Regions from separate parts of the Homo sapiens genome. Here all the other regions are linked to region 1. A link means that fine-mapping ties the variant in region 1 to the plasma level of a protein whose gene starts in the linked region. Region 1 holds a variant in brackets. A gene starts in each other region. All regions are shown on their reverse strands.

Region 1 (6,514 bases):
CCTGCTTCCATGTGAAGAGATTCTTCCCAGATCATTATGCTCAAATAATTAGGTCTGTGATTCTAATGCTTCATATTCATGCAGAACTATTCAATAGATAAGAGTTTTAAGTGATACTGGGGAAACTGGTGCTTCTCTCCCCTCTGGGACTCCCCATCCCCAAGGGAGGAAGGGACCACTCCCTGGAAAAAGGAACTGAGGATACTCAGCCTCTTCATCTTGTTCTAGCTGGATCCACCCCCAAGGGACCACGTGCCCTGCCCTGTTCCTTGCCACTCGGAAGGGAGCTGCCTCCAAGACAGGGGTCCCCAATCCCCAGGCCATGAACTGGCACCTGTCTGTGGCCCGTTAGGAATCGAGCCGCACAGCAGGAGGTGAGCAGGGGTCTAGCGAACATTACTGCCTGAGCTCCACCTCCTGTCAGATCATCAGCGGCGTTAGATTCTCATGGCAGCACAAACCTTATTGAGAACTGCACATGTGAGGGACCCAGGTTGTACACTCTTTATGAGAATCTAATGCCTGATGATCTGTCACTGTCTCCCATCACTCCCAGATAGAACTGTCTAGTTGCAGGAAAACAAGCTCAGGTCTCCCACTGATTCTATATTACGGTGAGTTGTATAATTATTTCATTATATATTACAATGTAATCATAATATAAATGAAGTACACAATCAATGTAATGCCCTTGAATCATCCTCACACTATCCCCCCAGGCCAATCTGGCCCATGGAAAAGTTATCTTCCACAAAACCGGCCCCTGGTGCCAAAAAAGTCTGGGACTGCTGCTCTGAGACACCTATGGGCATCCACCCAGGCCATGACAGGGTGGGCAGCTCAGGGGCCAGCTGTCAGGGCTCAATTCTAAGCATGCTCTCCAGGCAGCCATCTCATCGCCCTTCGTTGATTGCCGATGTTTCATTTCTCAATCATTTCCAAACTCAGGAGACAATGAGAAAATGAGGAGCTTTATGTGCTCACCACTAACACCCCCAGCATGGGCCATCAAATAATTCTTTAAGTTTTTTTGGAGACAAGGTCATGCCCTGTCACCCAGGCTGGAGTGCAGTGGCACAATCACAGCTCACTGCATCCTTGAACTCGTAGGCTCAAGGGACCCTCCTGCCTCAGCCTCCCAAAGCCAGGTGACTGGGACTACAGGCATGCACCATCACACCTACCTAAGTTTTCTCTTTTTAGTAGAGACAAGGTCTCACTATGTTGCCTAGGCTGGTCTCAAATCCCTGGCCTCAAGTGATCCTCCCATTTTGGTTTCCCCAAGTGTTGGGATTACAGGCATGAGCCACCATGCCCAGCCTAAATGTTCATCATTTTGGTGCCATTTAAACTTGGTGTTTTTCACCCTCCTGCTGGTAATTAAATTTAAATGGTGCCCACCCTTTGTTATGTCTTAACTGTAGTATATTTTAAAATATATTGAAAAAATACATACCTGGCACCTCTAAACTATGAAATCAAGTTTCTTTTCTATATAAAATTAAGTTTAAAAATAGTGAATCAATATTAAAATAAGTATTAGATATAAAATAGTACTCATGGTATGCAAATATAACAAAAATTATTAAGGCAATAAAGGAAGGGCTCATTACTTTATATACAGCCTATTAATATTTTAATAGGCTAATTCTGCTTTTCTTTAAACCAGTACTGTGTATCAAAATTACACAGAAAACTCTCATTATACAAAGACTATATAGAGATTTTTTTTTTTCCTCACACATGGATTGACCAGTTTTGGGGGGTGGTTTGGAGCCATATGACATTATTTCTCAAACTGCAAACATTTGTTTATCAACCTTATAAGGTTTGTTGTATCTGCCTACTGCTGATACTATTTATGTGATAGTTTTCTTTAAATCAACTCACCGTTTTCACCTGAACTGATGTATGTTAAGAGTGATTTTATGTTTTTGGCAAAAAGAAAACCAGTAACACTCACCATATACAATAGGAACTGCAAAATAATAAAATCAGTGGAAACGTGACAATATGATTAAATTCTACCTAGAAATAGTTGTCTGCTGGAAGCAAAACCCTCGGCTTGGTTCTGTGAGTCATAAAGGGAAATGAGAAGCCTTTAAGAGAGGCACAAAGCCAATTAGCCATGCAAGACTCACTGATGGGGTCAGAGTGGTGTCACCTAAAGAGAGGACTGGGTCACCGGGACCCGAGGAATGGCCACAGAGGTGGACCCATGCTTAAAGCCTTGAGCCTTACATGCACCATGTGTGCATTTTACCACATCTATGTTATTTACATATATATATATATATATATATATATATATTTAATTTTACTTTAAGTTCTGGGATACATGTGCGGAACGTGCAGGTTTGTTACATAGGCATACCTGTGCCATGGTGGCTTGCTGCACCTATCAACCCATCATCTAGGTTTTAAACCCTGCAGGCATTAGGTATTTGTCCTAACGCTCTCCCTCCCCTTGCCCCCACCCCCTGACAGGCCCTGGTGTGTGATGTTCCCCTCCCTCTGTCCATGTGTTCTCATTGTTCAACTCCCACTGATGAGTGAGAACATGCGGCGTTTGGTTTTCTGTTCCTGTGTTAGTTTGCTGAGAATGATGGCTTCCAGCTTCATCCATGTCCCTGCAAAGGACATGAACTCATTCTTTTTTATGTCTGCAAGTTATATTTTAATAAAGACATTTCATATCTTTCAGGCTGGCAACGGCGGCTCATGCCTGTAATCCCAGCACTTTGGGAGGCCAAGGCAGGCAGATCACATGAGGCCAGGAGCTCAAAACCTGCCTGGGAAACATGGTGAAACCCCATCTCTACTAAAAATATAAACATTAGCCAGGCATGGTGGCAGGTGCCTACAGTCCCAGGTGCTTGGGAAGCTGGGAGGTTGAGGCAAGAGAATCACTTGAACCCAGGAGGCAGAGGTTGCAGTGAGCCAAGATCAAGCCAGTGCACTCTAGCCTGGGCAACAGAGCCAGACTCCGCCTCAAAAAAAAAAGAAAATTAGTATCTTTCAAAGACAGACATGTTAAAATTTTGGAAATGGAATTGGTGTAAGAAATCATTACATTGCTTTAGTCTCTTGACTATGATGGCAGATATAGGATGCTATGCATGTGACCAAATTGTACATAACTAAATACACACAAGTACAAGGAAAATGGGGGAAAATCTGAATAAGACTGGTAGTGGGTTCTATGAATGTTGTGAATGTTAATATCCTGGCTGTGATACTGCACTACAGGTTTGCAAGATATTACCATTGGGGATAATTGGGTAACGTTCACATGAGATCTCTCTGTATCATTTCTTACATCTTTATGTGATTCTTCAATTATCTCAACAAAAATTCCAATGGAAAAAAATGCACAGCATCAAGGAGAAAAAAAAAAAAAAAAAACACATGTTGGTACCAAACAGATGTTCTTGTCATAATCAGGAAGACGGAAAGGGAACTGAGAAGGAAACCACACTCCCAACCTTGGTTCAGGCTCCCTAGGCACTGCCTGTTGTTAACGCTTTGCCATGGCACCCACGACACGGGGGTCCCTGCGGAGAGCATCCCTTACTCCTCCCAGGGGATTCTACCAGCCACCTCTGGGCTCCGCCTTCTGCCAGGACCCGTCCTATTTCCCGCCCAGCTAGAAATAGATGTTCATGCAGCCTCCTGATAAGCTGGGCACTGAAACCCAGAGGAAGTGGCCTGCAGGGTGCCCACTC[G/A]TTTGGAAAAGGCAAAGGTCACACAGCTATAGAAGCCAGCTGGGACCACAATTCCTAGGAATGTCAGCAAGGAGTTGAGGTAGTCTGAGAACTGGCAGAAGAGTAAATGCAGACTTCCCTTTCAACAACAGCCTTTCATTTGATCACACACTTTTCTGACTTCCATCTGAAGCAGCACTGCATGTATATGTATTCTCGTTCTTTGAGTTTGCTAGTTTGTCTTTTTTTGTTTTTGTTTGCTTTTTACAGCAAGAGAAAGGTTCTCAAAATACAGACAACTACCTTAACTTGGATGGCCTGGAATAAATTCTAGAGTTGTAACTGATGTTGAGTCTTCCCATGGAGAACGCTGGTCCTCAACTTCCTACTAAGGACCTTTCGGCTTCAGAGAAAACCAAACAGGAGGAAAGGGAAGGGAAACCACATGCACAGAAACACTGAGTACATGCCCGTGTGCACAGCAGGGGTCCTGACACCTGTGCACTCATGTAAGGCTGAGATGACTGTCTTCCTTCCACAGGTGGGGAGGCTGAAGCAGAGAGAGTCACTGACTCATTCAAGGTCACAATGGTTGAGCCAGAACTTGAACCTGAATGGCCAGGCTCCAAAGTTTGCACTCGTTTTTGAGACATAGTGTTGCTCTGTTGCTGAGGTTGGAGTGCAGTGGCACAATCTCAGCTCACTGCACCTCAGCCTCCTGAGTTCAAGCGATTCTCCTGCCTCAGTCTCCTAAGGAGCTGGGACCAAAGGAGTGTGCCATCATGCCCGGCTAACTTTTGTATTTTTGTTGGAGATGGCGTTTCACCATGTTAACCAGGCTGGTCTCAAACTCCTCACCTCAGGTGATCCACCCACCTCACCCTCCCAAAGTGCTGGAATTACAGGCATGAGTCACCTTGCCCGGCCCAAAGCTTGCACTCTTAACCACTACCAAGGGAAGGATGAAACGAGAAGCCAAGATCCAAAGTGCTCTCCCCTGCAGACAGCAAAAACCTCTTGGCTCCACCAGTGGGAATACGAGTCCATGGCTGACACGTGGGCCAATACAGGGCACCAGGAGATCCACGATCCAGTCCCACTGCCACTACCTTACTGTGTGACCTTGGGAGAGTCATTTTACCTCCCTGGGCCTCAGTTTCCCCCTCTGAGAAATGCAGGGATTGGGTCAGCTGTGTCATTTGGATAGTCTCTAGGGTATGAAAACACTAGTTGACACCAATTCAGGATGAAAATGACTCTGGTCTTGTCCTTGGTGGCCCTGGAAAGAAAGTATAAACGGGTAATGTTGGGGGTTGAACTGCATCCCCCAAAAACATACATAGAAGTCCAGTCCCTGGTATGTGTGAATGTGGCCTTCTTTGGAAATAGGGTCTTTGCAGATGTAGTCAAGATGAGCTCATGCTGGATTAGGGTGGGTCCTAACCCAAGACTACTGTCCTTGTAAGAGGGAAATTTGGACAGAGACACACTCAGAGGGAGAGATGGGAGTGCCAATATCCACCAGCCAAGGGACACCCAGGGTCACCAGCAGCTACCAGAGGCCAGGAAGAGGAGAGGAAGGATCCTCCCCTAGAGCCTCCAGCGGGAGCACTGCCCTACCAACACCTTGATTTCAGACTTCTAAGCTCCACACTGCAAGGGAATAAGTACATTTCTGTTTTAAGTCCCTCATTTTGTGGCACTTGTGTTATGGCAACCACAGGACACTAATATAGGTAATAACATGGTTTTCCTATTATCTTCAATTATTATCATTATTATTATGATTATTATTATTATTATATTTGAGACCGAGTCTTGCTCTGTCGCCCAGGCTAGAGAGCAATGGCACAATCTCAGCTCACAGCAACCTCCACCTCCCAGGTTTAAGCGATTCTCATACCTCAGCCTCCCAAGTAGTGTCACCACACCCGGCGAATTTTTGTATTTTTGGTAGAGATGGGGTTTCGCCATGTTGGCCAGGCTGCTTTCAAACTCCTGACCTCAGGTGATCTGCCCGCTTTGGCCTCCCAAAGTGCTGGGATTACAGGTGTGAGCCACCACACCCGGCCATCTTCATTATTATTATAACAGCTACTTACTAAGTGTTAGCTGTACGTAAGGTAGTATATTAACTGCTTCACCTAAATTATCCCATTTCGTGCCAGCCACCCTACGACAGAGGAGTCATTATTATACCCATTTTGCAGACATAAAATTCTAAGGCTCAAAGCAGACAAGGAGCTTGTCCAAGGTCACACAGTGAATCAATAACAGAGCTGACACCAAACCAAGTAAGTGGCACCTGGAAGGCCACTTCCTCCTCTTTGGGTACCTCCACCTCCTCCCACTGAGAAAAACAGTGTTCATGACACCAGGAGGTGGGCAATGGGCCTTTCCCCTGCCCACAGGGTCTGTTCTCCAGAGAGCAGATTACAGCAAGGACTTGGCACTTTTGCAGTAGTACCCAGTTCTACAATGGACCAAGGCTGCCTCCCCATCCACCCAAGAGGAATCCAGAGTTAGCCATAAAAGACCAAAGGAACAAATAAAAACTCCTCAGCTCATGGCCAAGAAGCTCTGGGGACTGGCAGGAGGTTTTGTTAAAGGAGATTGTCCTCGTCCTGGGAGCCCTTGTAAAGGGCAGCCATGCCTTGGTCCAGTGGGTTCTCCTCCCCACCCTGCTCAGATCTCACCCTGTCCCAGGTGGGTCCTACCAGAATCTTCCTCTCAGGAACATCCCTCAAGGAGCCCCAGCTCTGAAACTCCCAACAGCAGCAGCAGCAGCAGCAGCTCTGCAGATCCAGGGT
Region 2 (6,514 bases), not on the chromosome of region 1:
ATATAAGCATTAAAAGGCAGGAATTACCGGCATGCACCTCCATGCCCACAGATTTTTGTGTTTTTAGTAGAGACAGGTTCTCACCATGTTGGCCAGGCTGGTCTCCAACTCCTGACCTCAGGTGATCCGCCCGCCTCGCCTTGGTCTCCCAAAGTACTAGGATTACAGGTGTGAGCAACCACACCTGGCCCCTGGGGTCTCAATTTGTGTATTTATGCATGGCCTCCACCAGTCTAGCTTGGAAAAGGGCAGGGCTTTCAGATAGTTTCATACATACAAAATTATTATTTCTTTTTATTTTATTTTATTTGAGATGGAATTTCGCTCTTGTTGCCCAGGCTGGAGTGCAGTGGCGCAATCTCAGCTCACCACAACTTCCGCCTCCAAGGTTCAAACGATTCTCCTGCCTCAGCCTCTGGAGTAACTGGGATTACAGGCATGCACCACCATGCCCAGCTCATTTTGTATTTTTAGTAGAGATGGGGTTTCTCCGTGTTGGCTAGGCTGGTCTCAAACCTCAGGTGACCCGCTCGCCTCAGCCTCCCAAAGTGCTGGGATTACAGGTGTGAGCCACCGCGCCCAGCTATTATTTCTTATAATTTAGAAAAATTAACAGGTTTTATTATATATTTTTCATTCCCTCCAACAGAGAAGTTACCATATGATCCTGTCTGCCCTTACCTCTGTTTGGGCCAGAATTGGTGGCCTGGTATTGCCAATAGGTTCTATGTTGGGGACAGCTTCTGCCCAGCTCTGTTATTAGGACTGGGAGCATGAGCTTCATCTGCCCATGCTGAAGATCACACGTGTGATTTTTTGTGTGTGGGAACAGCAGGTAGTTAATACCACAAATACATCTTGCCAGGTTAAATCAAAGGCAACAGTTAAAGTCTGAAATTCTTGAATGAACTTAGAGGGATCCTGACTAAATGAACCCAACTTGGATTGAATTTGCAAAAGATCAGACATGATCAGAAAAGGGACATGAACTTGGCTTGTTCCCAAATCTTCATTAGCCACCTTAGGGAGAGGCAAAATATTTTGGGGATTTTTCTGAGGACTCTGTACTAGTAGCATATGTGACTCCCCTGAGAGTATGTGAAGGGGAGAAAGTATTTGGGTATGTGGGTGGGAGATTGACTAGGGAATGGAGCAGATGGAGAGGGTGTAGGTGAAGAGTGAGCAGGTTGAGGAGGATGTAATAGGCAAAAGGAAGGATCATCTAAGACATCAGAACCGGGAAGGGAGGACGTTCCTTGGAAGCATACATGACAATTTGTATGTAATTTTGGGTTTGGATTTGGGGATAAAGCAAAAAAGACCTGAACATATGGGACTTCTGAATCCTTTCCAAGGTTCCGGCAAAAAATCAGTTAAGTTGTAAAGTAGCATTGCAATCCCAAGTTTCATTAATTGGCCAAATTGATTGATTAGGGAGCTTGTATTGAACCCAAGCAATATTAGAAAAAAGGATATGCTTTTTAAACTCTTATTTATTTTTTATTTGTATTTTTTGAGACAGAGTCTTGCTGTGTCGCCCAGGCTGGAGTGCTGTGGCGCCATCTTGGCCCACTGCAACCTCCGCCCCCGGGGTACAAGTGATTCTCCTGCCTCAGCCTCCCTAGTAGCTGGGATTATATGTGCCCGCCACATATAATTAGCCCCCTGGCTGATTTTTTTTTTTTTTTTGTATTTTTAGTAGAGACAGGGTTTCGCCATGTTGGCCAGGCTGATCTCGAACTCCTGACCTCAGGTGATCCACTCGCCTCGGCCTCCCAAAGTGCTAGGATTACAGGTGTGAGTCACTGTGCCCGGCCAAGTTTTGCATTTTTAGTAGACTCCCGGTCTTTAACTCCGGACCTCAGGTGATCTGCCTGCCTTGGCCTCCCAAAGTGCTGGGGTTACAGGCATAAGCCATTGTGCTCAGCCTTATATGCTTATTTTTAAGAGTTTGTGGGTCAAAATGAGACCAATGGGACCATTTTTAAGGAGGCAATCCAAGGGCGAGTTGGATGGAACTGAATTAATTGAACCGAAGTTGGGTTTAGACAAGGAACTACAAGATCCCTGAGGCATCCCTGTGTAGAATTGAGATCCACCGCTTCCAGGACAAGGCTTATGGAGTGTTAAAATGAAAGTGCCCTGCCACTCTGACAGGCAATAGCTCTTTTGTCTTGGCCTTGGGGTAATACCGGGGGATGGCGCTTGGCCAGAAACTGTCAGTTGCCAACGAGAACTCAAGCTGGTTCACTGGCAGTCCGAAAACAGAAAAGAGCCCTGGCCAGTCCCTCACCCCTAAGGGCAAGGACAGCCAGGTATCCCTTCTCTAGGGCTTCAGGATCCCACAGAAGAGCTGCCTCCACCGGGACCGGCAGTTCCCCAAAGAGTAAAGAACCAGACCGTGGAAGGAAGCAGAGAGAAAAAGGAAGAGGGAAATCCCAGTGAAGTCCCCGTATGGGCCACCAAGATGCCAGGCGAGGTGTCAGAGCTCCGGAACCGGGAAGTGGTTGGCTCCCGGGTGGTAAAAGAACTTATCAACAACCGTGTAGGTCTGAAAAGGAAAGTTTTATTAGACGGAAAGGACGAGGCAGCAGAGCGCAGTAGGCGCTTCAGCAAGAGAGGACTGAGCTCCCTGCGGGGAACTGCAGGGTAATTTGGACCACATTAGTCACTTAGGTCATGGTAAATGGTTACATTTGTCGATATTTTGGTGCCTTGATGTCAGCAAAGTTTGCACAATGGGTCTTAACGTGCACTCATTCCGGAAACGTACAGAAATTCTAGTTACTTATAAATTCTTGGGACGGAAGCTTGGTACCAGATGTGGCTTTAGACAATAGGGAAGTGTCATTCTGAATTGCTCAGATAAGGGGCTTTGCCTCCTGTTGGTCGACTTGATGGCCACCAGGTGATCTCTGGTCTCTTCAGTGTGGCTTTGCAGACTATAAAGGCGCAGCGCGCCAACGAGGCGGGTTGGCCCCAGACGGCGGAGAGGAAGGGCAGAGTCGGCGGTCCTGAGACTTGGGGCGGCCCCTTGGAGGTCAGCCCCGCTCGCTCCTCCCGGCCCTCTCCTCCTCTCCGAGGTCCGAGGCGGGCAGCGGGCTGTGGGCGGGCAGGAGGCTGCGGAGGGGCGGGGGGCAGGAAGGGGCGGGGGGCTCGGCGCACTCGGCAGGAAGAGACCGACCCGCCACCCGCCGTAGCCCGCGCGCCCCTGGCACTCAATCCCCGCCATGTGGGGGCTCCTGCTCGCCCTGGCCGCCTTCGCGCCGGCCGTCGGCCCGGCTCTGGGGGCGCCCAGGAACTCGGTGCTGGGCCTCGCGCAGCCCGGGACCACCAAGGTCCCAGGCTCGACCCCGGCCCTGCATAGCAGCCCGGCACAGCCGCCGGCGGAGACAGCTAACGGTGAGTTCCCCGACCGACGGTCCGCTCCCCCGCAAGCCGACTGCCCGGCTCTCCTGCCCCGTGGGGCGATCCCTCCCTAACACGCGGGCACACGCACACCCACGCACACTCACAGTCATGCACACTCACCCCGCACGCACACTCGCACTCACGCGCACACACGCGCGCGCACTCACACACATTCACACACGCGCACACTTGCACTCACACGCGCGCGCATTCACACGCATGCACACACACGCACACTCACACGCGCGTGCGCGCACACACAGTGCACGCGCGCGCACACTCACACTCACAGTGCACACACACATATACACACTCACACTCCCTCAACTCCCTGCTGGGAGCAATGGCTGCTGACTCGGCAGCCCCAGTTCCCTGCCAGACCTAGTCAGCAGTCCCAGGACAGGCGCCAGTGGGATGCTGCCTCTTCCAAGCCCCAAACCTTCCCTTTTCACCAAAGACAAAACAGGCCAGAACTGGCAGGAGGGGAGACAGAGGGGCAGAAGCTCTCAAGGTGCAGAGCAAGACTGCGTAGGAGAGAGTTTGAAGGCGAGGGCTGGAGAGAAAGAACAAAAGGAAAGAAGGGAGAGCCCCTCGCTGAGGCTGCCGGGAGGATGGGGCAGAGCGGGAGAGGAAGGCAGCCCGACCTCCCAGCTTTCCAGATGTGGAATAGGAGAGGAGGAGCGCAAGCGGAGGGCACTCAGGGGCTTCTAGAGGAGGCAAGTGGAGGAGGGTCTTGAAGGGTGATGTCCCCGAGTCAGGGGAGTCTGGAGAGAGAGAGAGAGAGAGGGCTGCCAAGAAGGAAGCGGCGGGCAAAGGCACAGGGGCACCAGATGCGGAAATGGGCAGCCTGTTCTGGAGGCAGCTGTGGAGCTTCGATGGGTACCCCCAGCACCTGCCTGGGCAGAGCCTTGTGCTGAAGGGCCGGCGGGCAGGCCCAGCCCTGAAAGCCTCGACACCCAGGCAGACATGGATTCCAGGACAGGCCATCTGAGCCCAGAGAGCAGACACAACAATGGAAGCGGCACAGGGGTTTTGGGGCATGATGCTGAGTCTGGAGCTAAGAAAGCCTCCTTGGAAAGGCATCTGGGCTGAGATGCAAAGGAAGAATGGGAATTAGGTGAAAAAATCAGAGGCGAGGGGTAGCATTACAGGGGAGGGGATAGCTAGTGCAGAGGCCCGGAGGTAAAGTGCCAGACTCAGCTCTTTGGAGCAACCGAACAGTTTCTAGAGGCTGGGTGCAGCTCTCCATTGGATTAGAGGTTCACAGGGGAGGCTGGCCAAGCATGTAGTTACATCAGGGAGGAGAAGGAGGAGCCAAGGAAGTGACTGGAGAGGCAGGTTGGGGTCAGATTGCAGGCCTTTGATGTCCTGTGAAGGCTGTTAGATCCTGGTGGTGTGGCCTGCTGTGGGCTCACATGTCTTCTTGGGCTGGCAGACCTTTCCATCCGGGGTTTCACCATTCTTCCTTTCCCCCATGCTGTGCCTCTCGGACCCCAAGGGACCTCAGAACAGCATGTCCGGATTCGAGTCATCAAGAAGAAAAAGGTCATTATGAAGAAGCGGAAGAAGCTAACTCTAACTCGCCCCACCCCACTGGTGACTGCCGGGCCCCTTGTGACCCCCACTCCAGCAGGGACCCTCGACCCCGCTGAGAAACAAGAAACAGGTACTTCCTCTCCAGGGGCCCAGCCCAGACTTGCAGCCCCTGGGGCACTTTACCAGCACAGCTCTTGGCCTCATGGGCACCGGCACGCCCCTTGCTTGCCTAGCGCAGGAGCAACCTTAGGCTCAGCTTCCCACCTGCCCTGGCTACCCTCCCTCTGGTCCTGTCTCACTGTTCTATCCCCGCCCCAGGCTGTCCTCCTTTGGGTCTGGAGTCCCTGCGAGTTTCAGATAGCCGGCTTGAGGCATCCAGCAGCCAGTCCTTTGGTCTTGGACCACACCGAGGACGGCTCAACATTCAGGTCAGTAATCCTGGCTCGGAGCCATGGTCTCAGGGTAGGGAAGGCAGCCCCTGGGAGCTTCTCTCCTGCCTCCTCTCTGTCCTGGCCTGCCCCACTCTGTCCAACTGGGCCTGACCACCATGTCCTGTGTCTGCAGTCAGGCCTGGAGGACGGCGATCTATATGATGGAGCCTGGTGTGCTGAGGAGCAGGACGCCGATCCATGGTTTCAGGTGGACGCTGGGCACCCCACCCGCTTCTCGGGTGTTATCACACAGGGCAGGAACTCTGTCTGGAGGTGAGGCAGACTAACCCTAGGTCAGGAGGTCACAGAAGGACTGGGGTGGGAGTCCTGGGGGCACCGATGATCTCTCTCCACCTCTCCTGCCAGGTATGACTGGGTCACATCATACAAGGTCCAGTTCAGCAATGACAGTCGGACCTGGTGGGGAAGTAGGAACCACAGCAGTGGGATGGACGCAGTGAGTGGTCCCACTGTGGCTGGGGCCTCCATGCTGGGAGTTGGGCACCCAGTCCAGGCTAGGCTGAGGCTCCTCTGAGGACAAGGAATAGACGCCAGCTTAGGCTTCCCAGGGGGGTGTGGCTTGTTGTCAAGAGGGTGGCACACGGCAGGCACCATTGGGAGCCAGCTGCTTTGGGACATGCCCACATCCTCCCCAGATAATGCCACCACAGGGTGGGTGCTGCTTCACGGTACAGCTTCCTCCTGGCGTGCCCCTTCTGGCCCGGGGCCTCTGGTCCACATCACTTCTTGCCTTCTCGTGGTTCTGACTTCCGCATCTCATGGACCTCTTTTTACAGCAGGCTACAATGTGGAGTCCTGGCCAGCTCTAGGATTGGCTTCCCCCGAGTCATGTGGCCAAACTGGTCTAATGAACTGTGTCCAATCCAGAGAGCAAGGCTGCCTAGGGCTGCCCATTGGCAGGGGCTGTGGGCCGGGGTCTGTGTTTGATGCACAGTGCAAGTCTCTAGCTGAGCCCACTAGGGTGGGGAGACAGTAAGCTTGGAGGCCTGAGCTCCTTCCCTGGGTCCTGGGCCAGGCTTCTGGGGTTTGAGCAGCCACAACAGAGAACTTGCTGCCCCCAGGTATTTCCTGCCAATTCAGACCCAGAAACTCCAGTGCTGAACCTCCTGCCGGAG
Region 3 (6,514 bases), not on the chromosome of region 1:
AACCCTGGCCCCAGTCCTGGGGCAGTGCAACAATAGCTGCTTCTTGGTGAGGGGGTGTGAGGGGTAGTGCAACTGTGTTTCCCTTTTTAGCATCCTGCTATGGGAATGGCTGTTGGATAAAAGATGCCAGTGTCCTCTGTGGAGCAGGACACTGGGGGCCTCAGTGGCTCTGTGTCACATGACTGACACAGATAGCCTACAAATTTCTTTATTCGTAGCTATCTCCTGGTGTCTCATATATGCCAGTCTCACCGGTGATTCTTCTACATGGATATTCTTTCTTTTCTCCATTGTGTTGTTCCAAATTCTTTAACAGGCTCTTGAGCCCCATCCCCCAACTCCCCACCCTTGTGAGGGCTATTTTGGTTTGTGTATAACTGTCTATGTTTGTTTTTTTGTTGGGGCATAAGGCTGACATCTCCTACTCCACCATCTTGCTAATGTCACCTGCATAGGAATCTTTTTATGCTTTCCTTATATTCACTAAAATTTAACAATATCAAACTTAAAAACATATGATCAATTGAACTTATTAATATCAAACTTATTATAAATAAGAAACTACCAGGCTGGGCATGGTGGCTCATGCCTGTAATCCCAACATTTTGGGAGGCTGAGGTGAAAGGATCACTTGAGCCCAGGAATTCAAGACCAGCCTGGGAAATATAGAGAGACCCTATCTCTAGAGATTTTTTTTTTTAATTAGCCAGTAGTGATGGCACACATCTATAGTCCCAGCTACTCAGGAGGCTGAGGTGGGAGAATTGCTTGAGCCCAGGAGGTCAAGGCTGGAGCAAGCAGTAATCATGCCACTGCACTCCAGCCTGGGCCGCAGAGTGAGACCCTGTCTCAAAAAAAGAACCTACTAGTCTACATACCACACTTCCTCATCCCCATCTGAGACTATATATATTTTTTCTAACATGAGGCAATGCCAAAAAGAGGGGCTGGTGAGTGAAAGTAAGAACAGAAAGACATGGAGGCAAGTCTTATAGAATAATAGCCAACACTTAAACTTACACTTAACAGCGTGATAGGTATTGTTCCAAACACATTAAATTCATTTAATGGTCCTTACATGTCTATGTATTTGGTGATTATTATCCTTATTATTCACATTGCTGAGTGTATTATTCTGTTCTCATGATGCTGATAGAGACATACCCGAGACTGGATAACTTATTAAAAAAAAAAAGGTTTAATGGACTCACAGTTCCACGTGGATGGGGAGTCCTCACAATCATGGTAGAAAGCAAAAGACACGTCTTACATGGCAGCAGGGAAGAGAGAGAAATGAGAACCAAACAAAAGGGGTTTCCCCTTATAAAACCATCAGCTCTCATGCGACTTATTCACTACCATGAGAACAGTATGGGGGAAACCACCCCCATGATTCAATGATCTACCAGGTGCCTCCCACAACCTGTGGGAATTATGGGAGCTACAATTCCAGATGAGATTTGGGTGGGGACACAGCCAAACCACATCACTGAGGAAACTGAGTTATAGGGAGATTAGTAACGCCCAACACAGCTGGTAGGTGGTGGAGCCAGGCAGTCTGACTCTAGGGTCTGGACTCTGAACTGCATCATGCTGCCAAGAAGTTCCTCATTTTTTCCTCTCTCTAAGTTTCCCTTATTCCCCTACAGTCATTCCTTCAACAGCATTTCCTTCACCATCTTTTCTACTTCTACTATATAATTAATTTTTTCTTCTTGGTCCCAAATTCCAACGTGCAAATGCAGCCTTATATACCCTAATTCATCTTTACCTTTAGACTTTCTTCCAATGTTTCTACTTCATTCCATTTTAAATTTATCCATGAGATGCCTATTTACAAGCTGTAACCATCATGAAGTGAATGAAGAATAATACCTACTACTGTACAATAGAATTCCAAGAGTATAAATAGGAGTTATGGCTTTCTGACTTGAAACTAAATACTTGATACTTGATTTTGCTGTCTGAGATCAATCTGAAAAGTAATAATAATCACTAACATTTGTTGAGCATCAATTGTGGGCCAAGTGTCATTTCAATCACTCTGTACATATTAACTCATTTCATCCTACAACAACCCGGTGAGGCAAGTTCTGTTATTCTGTTTTACAGTTGAGGAAACAGAGGCATAGAGAGCTTAAGTAGTTTGCCCAGTAGATAGCCAGAAGAGGAGCCAGGATGGGTCTCGGGCAGTTTAACAGCACAGCTGAAGTCTTAACCACTATGCCAACAGCTTTTTGGTCCTACACATCCCATGGGAAGAGGAAAATAAAAAGGTATCTATTTGTATACCTTTTTATTTCTGATATAAGAAGCAGAATTCCTTTCACATGACCTATGTCTATTTAATACGTCATTTTGAAACTTACCAATAAAATTTCCCAAGCGCCAGAAAACTGTTAGTGGCTTTTTCCATTTCTCTCTATTTTTTTTTGTGCTACTAATTTTGCTTCTTTCCCTCAGAAGGCTGCCGGAATAGTAAACATTCACTGACATGTCATAATTACTGGAAAATGGGCACTGGAAAATCACATTGTAATTAATTCAAAGCATGTTTTCCAAATGTACTACTTTAAATTGGAGCTTATATCATAATCCAAGGAAACCTTTGTGTGTGTACTGTTCCCACATTGCTCAGCCTGGGATATCCAGGAGTAATTCACCTTGCGCCTGCCTCCAGACCATCTTCCATGGAAGGGGGTGACCCCTTGCCTCTTGGCAACCACTATTTCTAAGCTGCCAACATTACTCTTGCATTATCAACATTCTAACTTCATGGGAAGGGCTGTGGTGAGTTTCTGGAATGTGAATAGGAAGTTGTTTTTCTAAACAGCCTGACACTGAGGGGAGGCAGTGAGACTGTAAGCAGTCTGGGTTGGGCAGAAGGCAGAAAACCAGCAGAGTCACAGAGGAGATGGTGAGTTTATTTTTTTCTGCATGGGAAGTGGTTGAAGTGAGTTGGAGTGGTATGGAGTAAAGTCAGGCAGGTAAAGGTTCAGAAAGTGAGGAACAGCGATAGCCATGGAGTTTTATGTTGAATTGCCTATTAGATTTTGTGAGTACTTTTAAACTTGCTGTCCACTTTGACCCTCCCAACACCCTTGTGAGTTGAGGTTGCTATTTCTATTTTACAAATAAAGCCATCGTGGTTTACAGAGGCTGTGTTTTATCTAAGCTTCACTGTTAGGCTACATGATGTTGGGATCTGGGGCCTGTCCTCTGGCTCCGCAGCTGCTGTTCCTCCTACTAGAATTTATAGGGGCTCTCTGAGAATAGATCATGGTAAACCTGTCACCCCATTTTCCAAGACTGTACTTCTCTCTGGGATAAATGATGGAATAAATGGAAGACTGGGTAGGTGCCCTGGGACAAGCTTACAATTGAATAGTTTCTCATCCCCATCCCTCCCATTTCTTTCTGTGAGCCTATGAATCTTCTGGGACTGATCTGGAATATCCACATAGTTTCCTTTTCTGCCCTAAGACTCAATCTTGTTAATGACTCAGTTTCTTCTTCTATAAAATGGATATAGTAATAATACTCTATAGTTTCATCATGAGGATTAAATAAGATTTTGCTGAAAAGCATCCAGATCTGAGCCTGACACATAGTAAGTGATTAGTAAATGTTAGCCATTATTGTTACAATAAAAAGAAAATTCTTAGGAATAGTGGGGTTTAGGATTCAGGGAAGATCCAAGGATAGCTAGGCATTTTGAACTCAGCAATGTTATATGCTCATGGATAAGATGCACGTGGTTAGGCTACTTCTAATTCAGGGAAGATCCAAGGATAGCTAGGCATTTTGAACTCAGCAATGTTATATGCACCTAGATAAAATGCACATGGTTAAGCTACTTCCAATTTTCCTCAGACTTTCCAAGAGTATCCCACATAGTCCCAGGGTCCGAAATCCTGCAGTCTGTGGCTATGGAGGAACCAGGCAGGTCTCTGTTTTTGAGCACCTTTCTGTGGGACTCCAGAAAAAAGTACCGCATACACCTGATTCATCCTACTGCTTTGCTTTACTATAGCACACTTTTCAAGTACTTATAATGTGGGTTTCTGTGTTGGGGAAAACAGGAATAAGAGTATGATAAAGAGAAGAGGAAGGAGTTTGAGCCTGTCTTAAGTTTGAACCACAATGACCTAAGGATATGAATTACTTTTGTCCTGTCTTTTTGCATGTCATACTTCTGAATTGGTTAACTTAAATGAGCAGTTATTCCTCTCTTCCTTCTACTCTCCTTGGCATCCTCCTCTATTTCAAAGGTATGAACTTATTGGATCAGAGAGTTCTTTGAGATTTTGATGAAAGTTACAACTTGTCTTTCCCAGATGAAAGCAAAAACATCGACATAAACACCAACCTTTAGAGACAACCACAGGAGGTTCCCAGACCTCCATGTGGATCCCAGGGTAAGAACCCTTCTCGATTGCCTCCTGGGCTTTATGTTCAGAAGCCCCTCTCTTGGTACCCTGAAATTAGGCTTGAGCTCTACAGCGAAGTGCTAAGGCCCCAGCCCTGGAATGGTTTTTAATATTTCAAAGACAAGACCTCTTCCTTTTCCTCTGAGCACATTTGGCCCCAAAGATTCAGAAACCTCAAACTGCCTGTGTAAATTTTGCTTCAAGTTCAGAGAGTGGCTTTAATTAACTTTTAGGACCTGAGAAAATGAGGATAAGGTTTTTCTGGTGGGGTATTTTCAATCAGATAGATCTCAGAGGAGTAGCTCTTGATTGGGAACTTATAGTTAAATTGCACTGATGTTTGTCAAAGTTTTAGCGGGCTATGGCCGGGCTCAGTGGCTCATGCCTGTAATCCCAGCACTTTGGGAGGCCGAGGCGCATAGATCACTTGAAGTCGAGAGTTCAAGAGCAGCCTGGCCAACATGGTGAAACACCATATTTACTAAACTTACAAAAACTGGCTGGGCATGTTGGCATGTGCCTGTAATCCCAGCTACTCAGGAGGCTGAGGCAGGACAAACTCTTGAACCCAGGAGGTGGAGGTGGCAGTGAGTTGAGATCACACCACTGAACTCCAGCCTGGGTGACAGAGCAAGACTTGTCTCAAAAACAAAACAAAAAAAAAGTTTTAGTGGGCTAAGGAGCAGGTCTGGATTTTCGTCCATTTATACCTTTTAACCACCTTATGTGGCTTCCAGTCCTTACTCTTCTTTTCATTACCTGTTTTTCAAAATGCAACTAAAATAGTTCAGACTCTCCTGGGCTAGCCACCAGCTCTTAGAATGTGCATCTTCAGAGATCTTTAAGTAGAAGCTTATTGATCAAATCCTCAAAAATCAAAATGACTTACTACATAAAAAACTGTGTTTAGAAAAAACCCTGGACCTAAACCTAGAGAGTAGGCACACAGTGGTTTTATAAATGACATTCATTATATTGTCTTCAAGGTGTCTAATCTTTTTGATTAAAAAGTAAATCAGAAACTTCATGAAGTCAAATACAGAGCAAATCCTCACTATTTGTAGAGATATAACTCATCTCTGATCCAATAGACTTTTTAAAAAATTTTAAGTGTCGTACTTTATTTTTAATGCTAATATTTTACTCAAAATAATGGCAATTGGTAGTCTAAATTAAATATATGCTTGGATTCTAAGTGTTGATGTCCTGGGTCCCTTCTTGTCTATATTCATAATTTGCTCTTTGGCTTAGAGACAACCTCTTTTCTCACTGTATTTCTTTTTCCACCCCTAAGCTGGGCTACCAATATCTGTGCCACACCACTAACACCACCACCGTCCAGAAACATAAGGGAACTAATGTATTAGCTGTAATAGCTTGTAACATCTGGGCTTTGCTACCAACAAGTTGTATAGTTCTGCATCCTCAACAACTCTCATATTCACCTCCCCTATTTGCATTCCCACTGATGCCAGACCAAACCTGTCCCTCTTTAACTCTCACTGGGACCATTGCAATAGCCTCTTCTTTTGCAGTGCAATCTCCCTGATTGTAACTCATTTAAAAAAAAAAAAGTATCGCACTACTCTCACCCCTATAATATCAGCATTTTTGGAGGCCAAAGAAAAAGTATTGCTTGAGCCCAGGGGCTCCAGGCCAGCCTGGGCAATATAGTGAGAACTTATCTCTACAAAAAATTAGCCGGGTGTGGTGATGCATGCCTGTAGTCCCAGTTACTCAGGAGGCTGAGATGGGAAGATCACTTGAGGCCAGGAGGTGGAGGTTTCAGTGAACCCAGATCATGCCACTGCACTTCAGCCTGGGCAACAGAGCAAGACCCTGTCCCCCAGCCCCACAAAAAAAATCATACCACCATTAAGTGCATGTGTTCATGATACTTCTCTGTTCAGAAGTATCCCTTCTGCCAACTGGTATTTGTGACCCACAAGATATGGTCTCAAACTACCTTTTCAGTTAACCTCTAGGATCTCCCAATCTTCAGCAGGCTGGAGTGCAGTAGTGCCATCTCAGCTCACTGCAACCTCTGTCTCCTGGGTTCAAGCGATTCTCCTGTCTCAGCCTTC

Which allele goes with the higher level. Positions count from the first base shown, and alleles are read on the strand shown. Strength reflects both the effect of a copy and how common the allele is.
As copies of G replace A in region 1, the plasma level of the protein whose gene starts at base 3,176 in region 2 goes down (weak association).
With allele G in place of A in region 1, the plasma level of the protein whose gene starts at base 2,865 in region 3 is lower (weak association).

The links. PIP is the chance, under the fine-mapping model, that this variant and not a neighbour inherited with it causes the effect. The UK Biobank Pharma Proteomics Project read protein levels with antibody pairs (Olink). The fine-mapping took linkage between variants from a reference panel, not from the people measured, so its PIPs are less certain.
Region 2: CPXM1 starts here. The variant in region 1 is fine-mapped to the plasma level of the CPXM1 protein (UK Biobank, PIP 0.92).
Region 3: it holds the start of SELP, and the variant in region 1 is fine-mapped to the plasma level of the SELP protein (UK Biobank, PIP 0.98).

What each region holds. Positions count from the first base shown.
Region 1 is chr16:81,834,576-81,841,089 of GRCh38, reverse strand. The region is part of intron 2 of PLCG2 (phospholipase C gamma 2); the gene reads right to left. Among named protein-coding and RNA genes, the nearest start is that of PLCG2, 59 kb to the right of the region's middle. RefSeq lists an enhancer at 3,918-4,107. The variant G/A (reference allele first, on the strand shown) is at 3,726.
Region 2 is chr20:2,797,289-2,803,802 of GRCh38, reverse strand. It overlaps CPXM1 (carboxypeptidase X, M14 family member 1), which reads left to right and starts at 3,176. Exons shown (of 14, transcript NM_019609.5): 1 at 3,176-3,402; 2 at 4,910-5,077; 3 at 5,266-5,375; 4 at 5,512-5,651; 5 at 5,745-5,835; 6 at 6,461-6,514. The coding sequence starts at 3,231. RefSeq lists enhancers at 2,633-3,618, 3,619-4,606, 4,607-5,594.
Region 3 is chr1:169,626,475-169,632,988 of GRCh38, reverse strand. It overlaps SELP (selectin P), which reads left to right and starts at 2,865. Exons shown (of 17, transcript NM_003005.4): 1 at 2,865-2,917. The coding sequence starts at 2,915.